4 separate regions of the Homo sapiens genome follow, and all the other regions are linked to region 2. The links come from fine-mapping of genetic effects on gene expression. A gene starts in region 2. Each other region holds a variant in brackets. All regions are shown on one strand. Distances are between the middles of the regions.

Region 1 (5,155 bases), 800 kb before region 2:
CAACTATCTCATCTTTGACAAATCTGACAAAAACAAGAAATGGGGAAAGGATTCCCTATTTAATAAATGGTGCTGGGAAAATGGGCTAGCCATATGGAGAAAGCTGAAACTGTATCCCTTCCTTACACCTTATACAAAAATTAATTCAAGATGGATTAAAGACTTAAATGTTAGACCTAAAACCGTAAAAACCCTAGAAGAAAACCTAGGCAATACCAGTCAGGACATAGGCATGGGCAAGGACTTCATGTCTAAAACACCAAAAGCAATGGCAACAGAAGCCAAAATTGACAAATGGGATCTAATTAAACTAAAGAGCTTGTGGACAGCAAGAGAAACTACCATCAGAGTGAACAGGCAACCTACAGAGTGGGAGAAAATTTTTGCAATCTACTCATCTGACAAAGGGCTAATATCCAGAATCTACAAAGAACACAAACAAATTTACAAGAAAAAAAAAAACCCATCAACAAGTGGGCGAAGGATATGAACAGACACTTCTCAAAAGAAGACATTTATGCAGCCAAAAGACACATGAAAAAATGCTCATCATCACTGACCATCAGAGAAATGCAAATCAAAACCACAATGAGATACCATCTCACACCAGTTAGAATGGAGATCATTAAAAAGTCAGGAAACAACAGGTGCTGGAGAGGATGTGGAGAAATAGGAACACTTTTACACTGTTGGTGGGACTGTAAACTAGTTCAACCATTGTGGAAGTCAGTGTGGCAATTCCTCAGGGATCTAGAACTAGAAATACCATTTGACCCAGCAATCCCATTACTGGGTATGTACCCACAGGATTATAAATCATGCTGCTATAAAGAGACACGCACACATATGTTTATTGTGGCACTATTCACAATAGCAGAGACTTGGAACCAACCCAAATGTCCAAAAATGATAGACTGGATTAAGAAAATGTGGCACATATACACCATGGACTACTATGCAGCCATAAAAAATGATGAGTTCATGTCCTTTGTAGGGACATGGATGAAGCTGGAAACCATCATTCTCAGCAAACTATCGCAAGGACAAAAAACCAAACACCACATGTTCTTACTCATAGGTGGGAATTGAACAATGAGAACACATGGACACAGGAAGGGGAATATCACACACCAGGGCCTGTTGTGGGTTGGTGGGGAGGGATAGCATTAGGAGATATACCTAATGTTAAATGACAAGTTATTGGGTGCAGCACACCAACGTGGCACATGTATACATATGTAACAAACCTGCACGTTGGGCGCATGTATCCTTAAACTTAAAGTATAATAAAAAAAAATTAAACATAAAAAAAAGAGAACAGCACAGATGTGATGATCAATAACAATGGGTGTGGATGAGACAATAGGAACCCCTGCCAGACTGTCACAGTCAGAAAATATGTGCCCCATCTAAAGGGAACTGTCACTACTCATTGGTGCCATGAGAAAATGCAGGCCCAATGTTGACGGATCCTCCCATTTCTTTTAATGACAAGTCAGTAATGCAGGTGTTTATCTCAAATTTCTTGATTTTCAAATGTCGGCCAACAATTCCTAAAAAAGAAACCCAAACATGTTTATCGCTCTTCAGATCAACACTATGCAGGACAAAATGAAAATAGGTTGTCCACAAGTTGCAACCTCTGATTTAATCCATTCTTTCATTCACAAATACTTTCCGAGCATCTATGGAGTACCAGACACTGTGCTAGAACAAAAGGATACAATTCATAAGATGAAGTTCCTGCCCTAAAAATATTACAATCAAATGTCAAAATAGAGATGATGTCCAAGTAATTACAGTATTGAACTGTGAGTACCTCTGGGGTATGTAAGAGGAAACCCTAACCCAGACTTGAAGAGGATCAGAAATAGCTTTGACAGGTGGAGATCAGAAAGGTAGCTGTTAACTTAGTGCAACTCTGGCTGCATAACAAACCACCCCAAAACGTAATAGTTTAAAATAACAACAATGTGTTATCTCATAATCTTGTGCATTAACAATTTGGGCTGGGCCCGGCTAGATAGCTCTGACTTGAGACTTTCTAATCCATCAACCAACAGAGAGCTGCTGGGTTGGTTGGGTGTTGTGTGGGGACTGTGGTTTGGGATAGCCTCAGCTTGGACCACTTGTCTCTCCTCCACATCATCTCTCATTCTCCAGCAGGCTAGCCCAGGTTTGTTCACATGGCAGCTGAACAAGCTTCCAAGAGAATGAGTGAAAACATGCAAGCCTTTTGATGCTGAGGCTCAGAACTGGCACAATGAACTTCCTCTGCATTCCCTGTTACCAAAATAAGCAAGTCCCAGAACCAGCCCAGATTCAAGGGGAGGGGAAATTGTCTCCACCTAGTGATGGGAAGTCACACTGAAAGGTGTGGTCACAGGGGTGGGTGAAGGACTGTGGCTATTTTGGTAATGTACTTCACCTGATAAGAAGGCATGATGTGCGCAAGACCTGAAGATAATTGAGACAGAACATGGAGTTTGGGACATTCCAAGTTGTTTAGGATGGCAGGAGCAGAGAAGGCAAAGGGGTTTGAGGGAAGGCATGACAAGCGTGGTCAGAAGTCAGATCATACAGGACCTACCATGTATGCAGCCCAGTGAAATAGAGA[A/G]TCTTGGGTTTTTTGTTTGTTTGTTTGTTTTGTTTTTATGGCTTTCTCGTAAAAAAAAAAAGATTATTTTGCCAATACAAGACAATAATTGCAAAATAAATACAATGTAAGCTTAAACATAGCATCCTAAATAAAATGTTCTGGGGACTCATAAAGAAGATATATCTTATCTAGTTTGAAAAATTACAGAAGTTGTCATTAAAATGTAGAATTCAAACTGAACTTTGAAGGACAAAAAGGATTTTGCCAGGCAGGGTTATAGAGGTGAGGCAAAAGATGAGCATCCACCAAAGTGCAAGAATGGGAAAACCCAGAACATATGGAATCGCAAGCATCGTGGCTTGGCTAAGACGAGGGCAGCAGTTCTCAATCTTATTTTACATTAACCTCCTGAAAGATGATATTCATATGTAACTCTCCCACATTCATACCCTGATTATGCCAGAGTTAAGACAGGCTATGGAGTTATGCACAATTGCCAGCTGTCGGACTATAATCCCACCCTCTCTCGCCCCATGGTCCATTGTGAGGCTGAGTCTGAGATCTGCTAATGCAGGCTTTTGTAGGGGAGCCATGACGATTGCACCTGAAATAAGTTACGGACAGAGCCTGGAGGTGCTTAAATGCCAGGCTAAGGGATTTAATGTTAGTGAAGGCAGTTAAGAGTCCCTGAACATTTTTAAGCAGGACAGTACAAATAGAGCTGCGTTTTGCCAATATTCATCTGGCAGAAGTGGGTAAGTAGAGCAGGGAGAGTCTAAGAGAGGATGCTTCTTCCCTATCCCTGAACCACCACAGGCATGATGAATTGATCGAGGGACTTATTTCTGAGAAGCCCAAGCAGATCCTCCAAATTCTTCTCAGCATAGTGTTCTAATGGCGGGGGAAGGGGTGGAGCTAAAAAGTCAATTGAAACCTAATGGACACCCTTGGACTGAAGACAGTCAGCTCTTTAAGAGGTGAGACATCATTTAGGTGGGAAGCAGAGCCAGGGCGGCGTTTGGAAGTGGAAGTGGAAGTGGAAATGAAAAGGAAGAATACTTTGAGAAGTGTTAGCAAAGTGTGTCTGTATGACTTGGCACTTGTTTCATGTTGGGGGGGTGAAGGGGAGGGGCAACTAAATATCATTCCAATTTTTTGAGCTTATGAGAGAATATGGAGCCATTACCTACAATAAGAAATGAGAAAACAAACTGATTAGGAAGGGAAGAAGAATATAGATGGAGTTTGAGTCTTTAGTATAAACTTCAGGCCTAAGATTATTAGAATGAAGGCTGAGGCTAAAGTTTGTAAGAATAAACACATAAACATGAATCTCATGAACACGGGATTTCCCCCAAGATACTCAGCAGCATTGAATGAATGCACAGGGGAGAGAAGTCAATTTCTTATTTCCCCTAAAAATACTACATTATCACTCAAGAGTCCTGGCAGAACCAAAAACAACTGGAAAGGAGAAAAAGTAAATGCAAAAGAATTTTGGGTTTTTTTTTCTGCATAAGAGAGGAGTAGGAGAAATGGCTCCTGCATTGAACACTTGACCATGGCTGCACAAGTGGAAACCACAGCATCCTACCCCGTCTTTCAGCCTTTGCTCTGTGTCTGGAGTTTTGACATAATAGGACATGTGAAAGACTTGATCAAATTATGAAATGTATTGTTCTGCTACCTCCTGATAGAGATAGTTTGTCATGCAACAAAAGTGAGTGCCTATGTTCAGAGGAGGGGAGCTGAATTTCAAGTCATTCCCCTTTCAAGGAGGCAATAAATAATTGTGGGTTTTGAGTATGGATTCTGGATTAAGATTTATTGAGTTCCAATCCCAGCACTACCCTAATATGAGGTTCACTTAATTTCTCTTTGATCCATTCTTTCATCTGTAAAATGGGCCTAATAATAGTATCCATCTCTTAAGGTCATTGTGAGAAGTAAACAAGAAGTACATATTAAGTTCACCCAATTATTAAATACAATTGTTTCATAATTACCTTTTTAGTATAGATGCTCTTATCAAGTGCTAATGAATAATTCTTATACATTAATATAATCCATGGAGAGTTCTCACATTTTCTAAAATGAAAATCCCTTTGGTTTAGGTTTAGCATGACTGGATAAGAATCTTTAAGGACCTGTACATGAATGAATGCCTCCTATAAAGAAAGCTCTTAGAGGCTTCCCCAATCTCTGAGACGACATAAAGTGATCTTAGCCATAGAGTTCATCTGCTATGGGGTGCCAGTCATACCCTGTCTCCATGGATATGAGATTAGGAAGATGGATTTTGAAAAATGACCTTCCACATTGGGGTTTGGAGAACTTCTTGTTTCTACTTCCATTAACTCAGAAAAGGTAAAGGAGCTAAAAAGTATTCAAGTACTCTTCATTTCAGCTACAAAGATTTCCTTATAAATTTTTCCTCCTTAGGGGAGACCCCATCTCTAAAATAATAATAATAATAATAATAAATAAAAATAATTTAGCCAAGCATGGTGGTGCACGCCTGTGGTCCCAGCTACTAGGAAGGTTGAAGTGGGAGAA
Region 2 (5,155 bases):
TGGCTAATGCCTATAATCCCAGCATTTTTGGAGGCCAAGGCGGGCAGATCACGAGATCAAGAGATCGAGAACATCCTGGCCAACATGGTGAACCCCGTCTCTACTAAAAATACAAAAACTAGCCGGCGTGGTGGCGGGTGCCTGTAGTCCCAGCTACTCCGGAGGCTGAGGCAGGAGAATCACTTGAATCCAGGAGGCGGAGGTTGCAGGGAGCTGAGATTGCGCCACTGCACTTCAGCCTGGGTGACCAGAGCAAAACTCCGTCTCAAAAACAAACACACAAACAAACAAAAAAAAAACAAAGAGAAAATCCTGGAATTCTGAACCCAGCTTAGCAGTTGTCTAATTATGTCCTCTATACATTGTATCTGGTATATTTTTAGACATAAACTCATGGCTTCATGAACCCCAATAATAGATCTATAGGAAAAAGTCATTTTGTATTCAACATTTTCCCATGGAAATAAAGAATTCCCACAGGTTAAATAAGAATTTGGCCTTTTGCCCAGAAGAAGGAAATTTTCATGGAAGCTTTTTTAGAATACAGTGAGTTATACAAAGTCACAGTACTTCTGCTTGGTTTACTTTTAATTAAAACAACAGTAATTCAGAGCTATTATTATTTTCAATATTTGTAAGTTGCTCATTTCTTCATTGCAAAAGAAAATGTTTTGAGAATGATCCATTTTATATATCACATTTAGAAATAAATGCACTTCTGAAAGTCTGTGTTGGAAAGCAGAAAAATGAAGTGTCTTGTGTAATCTGCATTAAGAGAATTACTAGATCATAATCTACATAAAAGAATATTTAGGACTATATATTTTGTCATTTAGTCCTCTAATTAAAAACAAGGACACTTTAAATGAACAAGCTTGTTAAGATACCTTGACCTCCCTCCCTCCTTTCCTCCCTTCCTCTGTCTCTAGCTTAAATACAAAAAGTTGTGTATTCAAAAGCAACAGTGTGCAAGTTATTTTGATACTATTCTTTGCTAAGTTTAGAATTGCATTGCAATTCAATTTTATTTTCTGTCCACTTTGTTTTAGTGTTAAGGAATAACCAAATAGAGCATTGAGGATTATAATATTGAGTGCCCAAGAATAGTAATCAAAAATCTGCCAATAAAGATGCTATAAAATTGGATGAGTTCGTAATGTCTTAAGCAAATATTAGGGATTTAGGTACGTATTAGGCAGATATTTGGGGATTCTAAACATGTGTTCCCATGATGGGAGTGTAACACTTGGATAGAAAGGAAGTTACCTAATTGTGATCATTTTGGGGAATATTGAGTGGGCAGGGATGAGGGTGGGAGTGGGTAGAGGTGGGGGTGACTGCAGTATAGTGTACAATTCACTGCAGCCTGCGTGGTCTCCCTCGCTCCTTCACGATTTTCCCTCTTCTTCAAAGTTTGTGTCAGGATGTCTTCCTGGCCATTCAAGTGGAAAGATACATTCCTAACAGCTTGGTTGTGAGGAAAGTAATATTTTTAAAGGTATGATTCAGTTTCAAGATGAAATTTTTGGAGCTCGGGAATGATTTTTAACCCCCACCCTCTCCCCGCCAAATTCAGCAAATGGAAGAAGCAAGGCCCATCCGAGAACTATTCCCAGGCACCAGCTCAAGGCGGAGGGCTCATGGGGAAGCTGAGTGACCTGCTAGGGCCCAAATCCGTTTTTGGCCTTTGCCCTAAAACAGTTCCCCGATGAGAGTTTGGAAGGGGCAGAAAGGAAAGTAACTATCTGGAGCAGGCGAAGAGTAGCAACGCCTCGGGTGCTAAAATCGGAAACCCCACCCCCTACCCCACAACCCTTTCCCAAAGGTAGTAGGCTGAAAGGGGGAATTCCTCGCGGGCGCCGACTCGCTCGCATCTCCTGAGAGGCAAGTTTCTTCGCAAGCGTTAGCCACCTGTGTGAGGCGCTCTGGGTGGGAAAGGTGGCGTGGGAGAAGCGACAGCTCGGCCACACCGCTCGGGAGCTTTCCTTAGTGAGGCCGGCCGTCAAAATACCTCCAGAACTCAGAGCTTTGATGATGCAGAGTCCCCTATGCCTCGTACGTCGCTAGGATCGTAGCTCAACATTCTCCAGGCTGGTCTGCTCTGGAGTCAGCTGAGGCCTCCCGAGTTTGCCCGGGGTCCTCCCTGTCCCCTCCCTCCCACCTCCCCACCCCCGAAGTAGCGCTCCCGCCTCGCTCCACCCGCACACCCCCGGCGCGCCTCGGAGGCTTATCAGGCTCCCCGCACGCCCCGCAAGCTTCCTTGGGCGCCCGGCGCGAGGGACTCTGAGAGCCCAGCCGCTGCCTCGGAGCCCCCATTCACGTCCCCTCCTCCCGCTCCCCCGCCACCGCGCCTCCGACTCTTCTCCCCCGCGCCGCGGCGCCCACCGCGTCTCAGGTTTAATCCCGGGTTGGACCTGCTGGTTTGCTCTCCCCGCTCTGAGCCTCACAGCCAGCCCAGAGAAGTGGAATCTGCACTGAAACTCTGGGTGGCTGGAGCCGGCGGACTGGGCATGCTCAGAAGCCAGGGCTGGCTTTGGTCTCAAGTAGGAAGCTTTGGCACTCGGGAGGCAGCGGCGACTTTGGGGAAAGTTGATCGGAGAGGGGAGGAAGCCTCAAGACGCGGAGCAGCGGCAGGAAGGAGCCCCCGGCAGCCCGGAGGAGCATGGGCACCTTGCGGGATTTACAGTACGCGCTCCAGGAGAAGATCGAGGAGCTGAGGCAGCGGGATGCTCTCATCGACGAGCTGGAGCTGGAGTTGGATCAGAAGGACGAACTGATCCAGAAGCTGCAGAACGAGCTGGACAAGTACCGCTCGGTGATCCGACCAGCCACCCAGCAGGCGCAGAAGCAGAGCGCGAGCACCTTGCAGGGCGAGCCGCGCACCAAGCGGCAGGCGATCTCCGCCGAGCCCACCGCCTTCGACATCCAGGATCTCAGCCATGTGACCCTGCCCTTCTACCCCAAGAGCCCACAGTAAGCAGGGGTGACGCGCCGGGTCCATGTGGCGCCCTGGCGATGGGGAGCTGCGGGTCTCTGTATTGTCTGTCGGCCCCCGCCCCTCCCGCTTGCCATGTCTGTCCTCATCCTCAGAAATGTTTCATTTTAACGGGCACTTCTTGCGGGGCTGTGCACGTTTCTCAGAGCCAGACTCACTGCACATACGTTGCCTTCGTGTCTTTGTCAGATGTCAAGGTATTATTTTTAAATATACATATACATTCGTATAAGCCACCTAGTGTACGTAGAGTTTGAACACGTCCCAGGTGTGTGTCCGACCGTGTGTGTGAGTGTGAGAGAAGAAATAAAAAGCCCCCGTCTCCCAAAAGCCCTGGCAAACCAGCCCAGCTGGAAAATCCTAAATGCAGGCTCATCAGACTTGAAATGAAATGCGTCTGATCACCCATACTTTCTATGCTTTTGTGGCTCTCCCGGATTTCTCTACCTGCTGGCGCTTCACGCTGGTACCCTTCAAACCTGACGTTCTTGTCATCATCAAAGTGTGAAACATAAGCAAATAGGCATAGAAAAAGGAAGAATTTTTGATTTCCTGAATTGGATGACATTTACAATCCATAAATGGAAGACTAGTCTGTTGATTTTGAAGAAATATTTTTTCATAACATATGAGGGAGAAGATTGCTTATTTTACTTAAGAAACGTGCATAATGTTACTAATGGAGCATCTCCATCTCCCAAGAGGTGGTTGCTTGTTTCCAGGGTCAGATACAGATAAGCACACTTATCTTATTTAAAACGTGGACCCATTGTTTGCCTTACTCTTGGCTTCTAATGCAACCACTCTGGCATTGTTCTAGCCTTTTAGGGAACTGTGCAATTCTGATGTTAGTGGGCTTCATAACTTGGATGGGAAAAATTTAATGAAACTTGTTATACAACACTCAACTCAGAGTTCATATGGAGAGTAAAGCGACAGGAACATGAGGTTAACAGAATGTGGGAGAGCACCCAAAAGAACGGCATTTTAAATTAATAGATAATAACGTAATTGATAAAACCAAGGATATTGCTGCTTACTCTACTACTAACGAAATCACATTGGCTGGATGGCACGTGTTACGTAATAATGCAAGGTCCATCGAAACCCTTCACTTCATAAATACAACAAGTTAATATAAGGAGAAAGTAAATATTTGATTATCTCTATTTGTATTTATTGGATGTTTTTTGGGGAGAATCACAGCATGTACCAATTACTACTTTTGAAAACTTAGAGTTATACCTATACATGTTGATTCCCATGGAACATTTGCTGTTCATGCAGGCTTAGTTTAGGGAGGAGTTTGTATTCTGCGAGGGAGTTGGAAAGAGACAATAAGGATAAACATTTCTGAGATTCTGACCTTACCAAATTGCCCTAATAGTTCAGCAGACTTAGATCTGCCTTAGAAACCTGAGTGATCTGAATAAACTTCAACTTTCTCTGGTAAATTAATTTGCAATCCTGACATGCCTGACTGTTTTAGCTAACGAGGTACATGACCATCTCTCCTGGGCCAAGTTTTGCATAATGAAAAAATAACTCAAAGACAGCTCTCTGCATCTTTAAACATTTCATAGGATCTCATTTTTGTATCCGCAGGACTTTTGAGTGACACAGAGCAAACTCTGCTTTTACAAAAAGACCACTTTAATAGGTTTCATAGTGAAGCATGTTGAAGCCAGCTGATAACTCCAGTTACACATTCCATCAGAGATTTACAAGATTCTAGGCAGTAGGGAATGAGCTATACAATGTGATAAGTTTAAAAGCCTCTTTGTACATGACTTGTAGAATATCTAGATTGAAAAACAAACAAACGAAAAAGGTCCAGAGTGGAAAATAAAGCTGGTGTGGCAAATAATTTACAGCATCCCATTATAATAACATTTTATCTATCATTATAATAACATTTTATCTATCAAACAACACTGTGTGTCCTGATACTGATTTCTTACTAATAACTTGTATTTTAAAGGACTCAGCTCTTAAGGTATTGCCATGATGCTTTGGGTGACTCTGAAGTATTTTATTGAGGAAAATGATAGAATGCCTTCCAAGCTTAAATAATTTTGGAAAAACATCTGTTCTTTTTTCACACTTACATAAAGAAAACTAGAAAAAAATTGGCTTGAGTAGTAGAAAGTGTACCTTTCT
Region 3 (5,155 bases), 88 kb after region 2:
TATGTGTTTAGTTTTGAATATTCTTTTACTTATATAAATCTAATAATTTTGCACGTATTCTTCTACCACTTGTTTTTGCTCAATATTATGTTCCATTGTATAACCCAATTTATTGATACTTTCTGCTATTGATGGTATCCTGAATAATTTTCTGTTATTTTGCTCTCTCAAATTGTGCTTGTTTAAACAGTGTTAACGGTGAATCCTTATAAACATGTTCAGTAATTTCTCTAGTGTATATAGATAGAAGTAGAATTCCTGGGTCTTAATGTATGTGAAACTTCAAATTTGTTAAATAATATCAAATTACTTTCCAAAGTGGTTTTATCTGATTATACCTGATTGCAACTTATGCCTAAGTTTTCTGATTGTCTCTCATATCCAGGACAATTTATATTGACAAACATTTAAATTTTACCTATCTGGTGGATGGGAAATGGTACCTCGTGATCTTAATTTTCATCTCCCTAGGTATGAATGAGGTTGTGACTATTTGTGTTTCTTCCATGAAAAGTCTGTTATTGTCCTCTCCCTTTTTTACTGTTGGGGGGACAGCTTTACATACATTGGAACTTAATCCTTATTGAAGTTACATGTATGTATCAGTCTTCCTCTTGGTTTGTGCTTTTTGTATGTTTTTAAAGAAATCCTCTTAACCAGTGTTCTTCATGCTCGTGTGTGTGTGTGTGTGTGTCTGTGTGTGTGTGCATGTGTGTGTCCATGAAGGTACATTCATAGCTTAGTTATGTGAGGTTCATGGCTTAGATTATCTTTACATTGATAATCGAAAGAGTAATTGTCCTTTTCAAAGTAGGAGGCTTGAAAAGCCATACATTTTTGCTTTTCTTTTTTCAATATATTTTAAGAATTCTTTATAAATTGTCCTTCGGGACAGTAAATATGCTTTTGAAAATACTTGATGACAGCAATTTCTTTTTCTGTGAGAGTGGATTTTATATTTGGAAATAATCACAAGTCATTTAGTGACAGATTTGATGAATAGAGGTAGGTGATTAAGCTGACTAATACAGTTTTTTTTTTGGCTAAAATATATAAGAATGTGTGTATATGTACCATTAGAAAGTAATGGTATTTGTTGTACAAGTTAAGAATTGACCAGGTGTTTTACTCTAAAACATCATTATTGAAAAAGTGACATATTTTGAAGGGTAATGTTCTTAATACTCATCTGGTTAATACGTCCTTGTGAAATGTTTAAAAATATAGCCTTATCTCATTGTGGTTCTACTAATGTACAGTTCTCCAATTTTTTCTAAGGTATTACTGGTGGAAATGAGTTTATTACACTAGGAAGAGGCATAGTGTGGCTTTTCTTATTTTGGAAGCTTCCTGAAAGCTAAAAAGTTTGAAAATTGCTGTACTTGTTTTGAGATGATGGTTGAAATGCCATCTTTTTTTTCAAAAAATCAATGTGACATTAATAAGGCAAATCGTAGGTCACATTAAAAAGGTACACATTTTTCCCATCTTATTCTTACTTCAAGCAGTTATTTATTTTATTTCTATGCTTTTTCATTTTGCTAAGATATCAATCTCTCCATTCTTCACTTTGAGAGAATGGCAGATTGGAAACTTTAAAAGTGTATTTTTTTGGTAAAAATTAGAAACAAAACAGCATAGCTGAAAAAGTAAAAAGTGAGAAAAAAATGTGGATTAGTACTTTTTTGGCAATGGTGTAATAACACATTGATTTCTTGCTAATGAGGTAAAATTTACTTCAACCATCATTACATAACTGTTGAAGAGTTTGCATGCTGAACACTTCACACAATCTACAATTGTTATGTGTTCATTTTAAAAAACACATAGATATATTTCTTCAGGGACTTTAACATGATTTTCAGTGATTTCTTTGTGGAGCTGGATAGACTAATGCTTTTAATATCCATCCCTCTAATGAGAAAGCCTTGAATGTTTAGTAATTGTTTTGGCACACTCTCCAAGGGCAGGACAGATAGGAGCCACTTCCCAGCACAGGGGAGCTTACTGGTGTGGCTACCATGGCAACAGCCTACCCCACCCCCACCACAGAGAACATCCGAATTGGTCTCTGAAGTTCTTATTTGAATTCTCCCATGTCTCCACATTTGAGAAACACAGGCTGTAATTGCACCTACTTCATCTGAATTTAACCACTGTAGCTTTGGAAGGCTGCAGTTTTAATCTGATCTTTATATTTAGGCCCTTCTATAAACTCCTTTCTGATAAAATGAAAATATTTTTGTGCTAAGGCTCCAAAAGTAGTACACAGAGATTTAGAATTATGGTGGATGACGTAAAATGGTATTAAAATCAATCTGAGAATTCACACTTTATGTGTATTTAAAATACCAAGGAATTATTATTGAGTATATAGTTACATTAATGATTTGTGTAGAATCTTTTATTTGTCTAATTCATCCAACTTTACTGAAGTGGATTTTTTTCCTTGTATCACAAAACACCCATAAGTTATTCATAAGAATATATAGGAGGAGATGCTTTTATTTTATTTTAAATGTTATTTTATTAGTTTTGAGACAGGATCTCACTCTTTCCCATGCTGGAATTCAGTGGCTGGATCATAGCTCACTGCAACCTTGAACTCCTGTGTTTAAGAATCCTCCTGCCTTTGCCTCTTGAGCAGCTGTGACTACAGGTTCATGACACCATACCCATCTATTTTTTTGGATTTTTTGTAGAAATGGGCTCTCACTATGTTACCCAGGCTGTTCTTAAATTTCTGGCCTGAGGTGATTCCCTTGCCTCAGGCTCTCAAACTTTTGGGATTACAGAAATGATCCACCAAGCAGACCTGCAAATGCTTTTAAACCC[G/A]AATAGTAATCCCAGCTACACAGGAGGCTGAGGCAGGAGAATCTCTTGAATTCGCGAGGCGGAGGCTGGGGTGAGCCGAGATCACACCGCTACACTCCAGTCTGGGCAACAGGAGTGAAACTCTGTCTCAAACAAAAACAAAAAGAAAAACAGAACACAAATAGAGTATTTACTTTCTATTTGCTGTTCACGGTCTGTGTAGTTGAACAAGAACAGTTAAGTTACTCTGTACACTGTTCAATTTCAATATAAAAGCTAATTAAATTACTTTAGTCATTTATTAATAGCAAAGCTTTATTAGAAAAAGCATCTGGTCAAGGTGGTCAAACTCCTATGAAGATGGTTTTCCATTTCACAAATATGGGAGGGCAGCCAAGATGGCCAAATAGGAACAGCTCCGGTCTACAGCTCCCAGCATGAGCGACGCAGAAGACGGGTGATTTCTGCATTTCCATCTGAGGTACCGGGTTCATCTCACTAGGGAGTGCCAGACAATGGGCGCAAGACAGTGGGTGCCGCGCACCCGCACCATGTGCGAGCCGAAGCAGGGCGAGGCATTGCCTCACTCGGGAGGCGCAAGGGGTCGGGGAGTTCCCTTTCCTAGTCAAAGAAAGGGGTGACAGACGGCACCTGGAAAATCGGGTCACTCCCACCCTAATACTGCGCTTTTCCGACGGGCTTAAAAAACGGCGCACCAGGAGATTATATCTCGCACCTGGCTGGGAGGGTCCTACGCCCACGGAGTCTCGCTGATTGCTAGCACAGCAGTCTGAGATCAAACTGCAAGGCCGCAGCGAGGCTGGGGGAGGGGCGCCTGCCATTGCCCAGGCTCGCTTAGGTAAACAAAGCAGCTGGGAAGCTGGAACTGGGTGGAGCCCACCACAGCTCAAGGAGGCCTGCCTGCCTCTGTAGGCTCCACTTCTGGGGGCAGGGCACAGACAAACAAAAAGACAGCAGTAACCTCTGCAGACTTAAATGTCCCTGCCTAACAGCTTTGAAGAGAGCAGTGGTTCTCCCAGCATGCAGCTGGAGATCTGAGAACGGGCAGACTGCCTCCTGAAGTGGGTCCCTGACCCCTGACCCCCGAGCAGCCTAACTGGGAGGCACCCCCCAGTAGGGGCAGACTGACACCTCACATGGCTGGGTACTTCTCTGAGACAGAACTTCCAGAGGAACGATCAGACAGCAGCATTCACGGTTCACGAAAATCCGCTGTTCTGCAGCCACCGCTGCTGTTACCCAGGCAAACAGGGTCTGGAGTGGACCGCTAGCAAACTCCAACAGACCTGCAGCTGAGGGTCCTGTCTGTTAGAAGGCAAACTAACAAACAGAAAGGACATCCACACCAAAAACCCATCTGTACATCACCATCATCAAAGACCAAAAGTAGATAAAACCACAAAGATGGGGAAAAAACAGAGCAGAAAAACTGGAAACTCCAAAAAGCAGAGCGCCTCTCCTCCTCCAAAGGAACGCAGCTCCTCACCAGCAACGGAACAAAGCTGGACGGAGAATGACTTTCACGAGTTGAGAGAAGAAGGCTTCAGACAATCAAACTACTCCGAGCTACAGGAGGAAATTCAAACCAAAGGCAAAGAAGTTAAAAACTTTGAAAAAAATTTAGACGAATGTATAACTAGAATAACCAATACAGAGAAGTGCTTAAAGGAGCTGATGGAGCTGAAAGCCAAGGCTCGAGAACTATGTGAAGAATGCAGAAGCCTCAGGAGCTGACGTGATCAACTGGAAGAAAGGGTATCAGTGATGGAAGATGAAATGAATGAAATGAAGTGAGAAGGGAAGTTTAGAGAAAAAAGAATAAAAAGAAACGAACAAAGCCTCCAAGAAATATGGGACTATGTGAAAAGACCAAATCTACGTCTGATTGGTGTACCTGAAATTGACGGGGAAAATGGAACCAAGTTGGAAAACACTCTGCATGATAGTATCCAGGAGAACTTCCCCAATCTAGCAAGGCAGGCCAACATTCAGATTCAGGAAATACAGAGAACGCCACAAAGATACTCCTCGAGAAGAGCAACTCCAAGACACATAATTGTCAGATTCACCAAACTTGAAATGAAGGAAAAAGTGTTAAGGGCAGCCAGAGAGAAAGGTCGGGTTACCCACAAAGGGAAGCCCATCAGACTAACAGCAGAACTCTCAGCAGAAACTCTACAAGCCAGAAGAGAGTGGGGGCCAATATTCAACATTCTTAAAGAAAAGAATTTTCAACCCAGAATTTCATATCCAGCCAAACTAAGCTTCATAAGTGAAGGAGAAATAAAATCCTTTACAGACAAGCAAATGCTGAGAGATT
Region 4 (5,155 bases), 80 kb after region 2:
TGATAGTGCTCTGATTGTCCTCCTCCTGATAAAATATTTCTTAATATTTCTTCCACTTTGATTTTGCATTCTTAGAAAGTCATTTGGAACTTCTTATCCCAGCAAATAAATATCCCAATGTTTTAAGTTCTGCTAAAACTTTCTCGTTAACCACTGAATTCCAATTACAAAATTTATGAATATGTTTCCTACTGACTACCTGTATTGAATCCCATACCTAAAACATGTTGCACTTCAAACATCTTGTTCAATAGAGTTGTATCTGCCTGGTTACCTCAGTCTAAGCTGCTTGAAGAAAGAAATATTCTCTAAAAAGCATGGGACATGTGTAAAGAACTGTTGCATTTCTACCAGTTGTTTCAAATAGCTAAGTAGGAATCCAATTCTTTTTTAATCCAAAATATTACTTGAGCAGTATTATCTCCCACCATTTACTGAAGGTAACATTATATTCACCAGTCTTCACACATAAAGCTGTTAGGTTGGTATTTTTTTAAATACTATTTATAGATGACTGGCATCTTAGTAGACACTGGGCATAAAATAAAGAACAAATTTAAAATGATCCCTGCTTATGTGGAGCATTAAGTCTAGCAGAAGAGGCACATAAAAAATAAGTAAACATTTTTTTCTATAATTGTGTATAGTACAATACATCCCTGATATTCTTTTATAAATATAAACAGTAGTAATAGTATTTGTTCTGGAATGTTGAAATTTTATTCATGTTTATTCTTAAACTAAATTACAAACTTTAAAGTATGTATCCATTGGTTTTCTAGCAATCTTTGTGATTAAGAAAAAGTCTAAAGCAAAATGGACTTGTATGATTTTGTTGGTTGGTTGGTTGGTAGGTCACTTATTCATTAAATGATAGAATACTTAAAAAAAATTCTTAGTGCCTTTTTTTTTTTTTTTTTGTTTTGCTGCCATGGACATACTTTGTTCTCCAGTCTTCCAGAAAATTATTGGATTCCTAACAAGAAAATACATTTGTGGTGTGCCAGAGCACTCTATGGCGCTGCTAAACCTCACAAACTATGAAAGAGCTTGTCAGATGTGCCAGTAAATCTTCCCTCTCTTGCCATAGGTCCAAGGATCTTATAAAGGAAGCTATCCTTGACAATGACTTTATGAAGAACTTGGAGCTGTCGCAGATCCAGGAGATTGTGGATTGTATGTACCCGGTGGAGTATGGCAAGGACAGTTGCATCATCAAAGAAGGAGACGTGGGGTCACTGGTGTATGTCATGGAAGGTACGGTTTGTAACTCCAATCCTCTGACATTCAAATATTCTTTTTTCATCTTATCAGCTGCACACAGATGGCAATGCATTACATGGAAAATTCCATTTTTCCTTCTTTTATTGAGAAATTAGTTTGAGAAGAGTTGAAACACTACTTAGATAAAGTGGTTAACTAATTATGGGAAGTGTTTGTATTTAGAGTATTAATATGAGAATCCAGTATTTTTTCAGACATGGAAAAGTTAAAAATGTGAAAAAAGAAATATAGTTTATTACACTGAATATTCTTCATGCAGTCAGGTCACTGAGCAAACATACAAAGCTTCAGCAGAAGCTCAAGATCACTGGAAGTATTTTTGGCCGATAATTTAAGCATCTTCAACTCTCCCCTTAACTTTTAATATGTGACTAGTTTTCCTGCTATGAAGCTTCTGTAAAAAGAAAATGTTTTTCATGTGTATGACAGAGGCAGACAATAAAGGTTGAATGGAATATTACCTGCCTAATTAATAGGAATGATAGCTTGTTTCATACATCCTGTAAAGACTAATATAGAAAGTGTTTTGAAAAAAACTGAGGCACGCACTGTGTAATATGTTTTATGCCTAGCTAATTTTTCATAATACTTCTTTCTGACCTGAAATCTATACTGACATGCTTTTCTTTTGTGGGAAGAAAGTAGCTTGAGATAATGACTGAATCAGCTTGGAAGAAAGTGAGTGCAGAAATACCTATAATGTAAGATGGTGACACATGAAAACCAGTTTCTTAGGTGGTGATTAATGTTTTATCCAAAACATTTGTGTGATAGTGTCCTATAATTATCAAACTTACAGGTCATTCAGAGAAGTGGTGTATTTGGGCAAGTCACTTAATTTCTCTGTTTCACCTAACCAATTTGTAAAAAAAGAAGATATTCTTTCTTTCTGCCAGTGGTTTTCAACTGATGATGATTCTGTCTCCCAGGGGACATTTGGTGATATCTGGAGACATTTTTGGTTGTCACAAAGGGGGTGATGTTGGGGG[G/C]ACTGCTGACTTCTAGTGGGTAAAGGCCAGGCATACTGCTCAAAAGGGTAGCTGCCCAGAACAAAGATTTATCTGGCCCAAAATGTCATTAGAGCCAACGTATGAAAAATCCTGCATTCTGCCTTCTTTACACGATTGGTATAAAATGAGATAATTTGTATAATGTTTAATGTAAAGTATAGAACACCACAACATAATAATAAGTATTATTTCTATTAAAATCTTGACAGTATATAAGAAATATTCTTTCTTCATTCAGCATGCACCTTTTATTTATTCTTTGTCATCTTTTTGGATATATGTTAGGCATTCAGTTTTTAAGTAGTAATTTCTATCATTTTTTTCCCTTATAGTTTTCACCTTCTATGTCAACAATATAAAATTCTTCCCAGGCCAAAAAATATAAATATTCATTTAGACTTTCTTCTGGTGACAAAACACAATAAACAAAAATACACATAATGTACACTTGGCAGAGAATTGCAAAGAAAAGAGATGAAATTATAGGACAAGGCTATATGTGGATAGTGAGCAGAAAGGATGGAAAAGTGGCAAAAATATATAGAGGTCAAGTATAGAATATAAAGATAGAGGCAATATCTTAAGAACTACTAACAATTAGAAACCACGTTTAAAGCACTTCTGAGATTATATCAATAGCTTCATATGATATTATTTTTCAGATATTATATTGGTCAGCACCTTTTAATAAAACAGCTATTGTATAAAGGAAAGTATACTTTTACTTCATCTGTTTTCCAGTGCTAATTATTGCTGTTTCATTCAAGAAACCACAATTTTGAACACCTGTGGATTCAATGTTCCTTCATCTTAAATATTTCTTACAAAAGTAGATTTCCAAACAACCATGGACATTATTTCTAAAATTTATTCATGTTGTCCCTTCTTACTAAGCCTAACTGAAAGTCTTCTAGCTATATTGGAAGAAGCTTGGGAATAATAGTTAATATTTGTTAATGTTTAGAAAATGCCCAACACATAGAACATGCTTTTTCTAAATATTGTTTACATATAAAATTTATTTAAACCTCAAACAATACTGTGAGGTAAAGGCTAATATTTATTATTCCATTTTGTAGATGAGGAGACTGAAGCTTAATGTGGTTAAGTAATTTGCCCAGGTCTCCCAACTAGTTTATAGTAGAGTCAGGGTTTATACCCAGGCTATTTGGATTCAGAGCTCAAACTGTTAACTATGGGGCTATGTATTAGTCAGGACTCTCCAGAAAAGCAGGACAAATAGGATGTGTGTGTCTATATACAGTGAGAAGGAGATTTATTTTAAGGAATTTGTTTATGTGATTGTGGAGGCTGGCAAGTCCAAAATCTACAGGGTAAGGCCCATTGATCAGAGATGCTGCAATTCGAGTCTGAAAGCCGTCTGCTGACAGAATTTCCTCTTTCTAGGGGAAAGATGGGACTTTTTTCTATTTGACTGACTGGATGAGGCTCGCCCACATTATTGGAGGGTAATCAGCTTTACTCAATGTCTATTCGTTTAGGTGTTACTAAAATATCTTCACCAAAACGTCTACAGTAGAATAATTTTTGAGCAGCTTTCTGGTATTGTGACCTATCCAAGTTGACATGTAAAATTAAACATCACAAGTCAATCGACCCCTTGTCACCTTGGCACCCATACATATCTTCTTAAACCATATTTAATTTTCAAATAAAGACAAGAACAAGGTCATACTTCCACCTAACATGATTCAACAACCCTGTGTACAGCTGCAAATTTACTAACCCTTTCCCCAAAAGAAGACACAAAGTTCTTGGGTGATGTTTACTCACCTCATTGATATCCCGTAGCTTAAATACTATGATGTGAAGTTAACAATACTTAAATACTATGATATAAAGTCAATACATCTTATGCTGCATGATAAGGAGATAAGAGAAGGAAGCAAACGAAGTTATTTGATGCAAGCACACACACACACACAAACACACACACCCGAATGTAACAAAATAAGAAAGAAATACTCATGATAGGTGATATTTCTTCCCCAGGTAAGTATACTAATATTTTCCCCATTGCTTCACGATAATTTTAATAAATTTTCTTTATCTTCCTTTTATTGCTAGATTGACTAAACAGCACGTTATCTTAATTATCCTTTTAAAAACAGGGTTCTAAATAATATATCAATATTCAGAGTCACAGCTTTTGCAATGATGTTGACTGCCTTCAGAGTCACAGCTTTTGCAATGTTGTTGATTGCCTTCAATTAAACTCAATAAAATGACTACAATTTTATAACCTGATGCCAATCTTTCCCTAAATGGTAATTCTAGCCAGCTCAGTGTAACTTTAGCAGATCTTGTGCTAATAGCCTTATGTCAAAATAATTTAAAATTTAAAAAACGATCATTTAAATTTTAAAAAGTTTTAATTGAGGAAATGTTTCATTGTATCATTAGTTCAATCTTCTCAAAATTTAGGTAGCAATGTTCTTGCTATAGATGGATTCTTTGTTATCTGTGAACATTCATATTTATAAAGAGTATACCATGGTAATAATGAATGAATAGGCAGTAAAGGATCTTCCACAAGCTTGCTTACTATCAAGATATTCAGCAAAAGACCCAGGGAGTTTATGTGGAAAATCAGTCCAATTCTTCCTGTCTCTCTTTAGTGAAATTAAGTGGTCTTCATAAAATGCTTAACATGTGCCTTACATATTTTTTTTTGTTTGCACCCCGGGCAGTGTTCCAAGTGTTATTGCATACCTAAATGCCAGAGGTTCTTATGGTTTTAACAAAGAGAATACTCATATGGTAAGACTTTGTTAATTACGATGACTGGGGAAAAGTCATCTGGGTGTAGTATGCAGACATTATCATGTATTTTCAAGCAA

Direction of the effects. Alleles are on the strand shown, and positions count from the first base shown. SD is a standard deviation of normalised expression in the study named. Not every link is listed here.
With allele A in place of G in region 3, the expression in caudate of the gene that starts at base 2,559 in region 2 is lower (small effect, 0.40 SD a copy in GTEx).
With allele G in place of C in region 4, the expression in cerebral cortex of the gene that starts at base 2,559 in region 2 is higher (small effect, 0.39 SD a copy in GTEx).

What was found. PIP is the estimated chance that this variant, and not a neighbour inherited with it, causes the effect. A credible set is the group of variants that fine-mapping cannot tell apart.
Region 1: its variant is the best candidate, but not a certain one, in a credible set for the expression of PRKG1 in cerebellar hemisphere (GTEx, PIP 0.55).
Region 3: its variant is the best candidate, but not a certain one, in a credible set for the expression of PRKG1 in caudate (GTEx, PIP 0.64).
Region 4: its variant is the best candidate, but not a certain one, in a credible set for the expression of PRKG1 in cerebral cortex (GTEx, PIP 0.84).

What each region holds. Positions count from the first base shown.
Region 1 is chr10:50,269,707-50,274,861 of GRCh38, forward strand. No RefSeq gene overlaps it. Among named protein-coding and RNA genes, the nearest start is that of ASAH2, 21 kb to the left of the region's middle. The variant A/G (reference allele first, on the strand shown) is at 2,618.
Region 2 is chr10:51,071,929-51,077,083 of GRCh38, forward strand. PRKG1 (protein kinase cGMP-dependent 1) reads left to right here and starts at 2,559. Exons shown (of 18, transcript NM_006258.4): 1 at 2,559-2,973. The coding sequence starts at 2,663.
Region 3 is chr10:51,160,202-51,165,356 of GRCh38, forward strand. The region is part of intron 2 of PRKG1 (protein kinase cGMP-dependent 1); the gene reads left to right. Among named protein-coding and RNA genes, the nearest start is that of PRKG1, 88 kb to the left of the region's middle. The variant G/A (reference allele first, on the strand shown) is at 2,836.
Region 4 is chr10:51,152,074-51,157,228 of GRCh38, forward strand. It overlaps PRKG1 (protein kinase cGMP-dependent 1), which reads left to right. Exons shown (of 18, transcript NM_006258.4): 2 at 1,091-1,257. Among named protein-coding and RNA genes, the nearest start is that of PRKG1, 80 kb to the left of the region's middle. The variant G/C (reference allele first, on the strand shown) is at 2,274.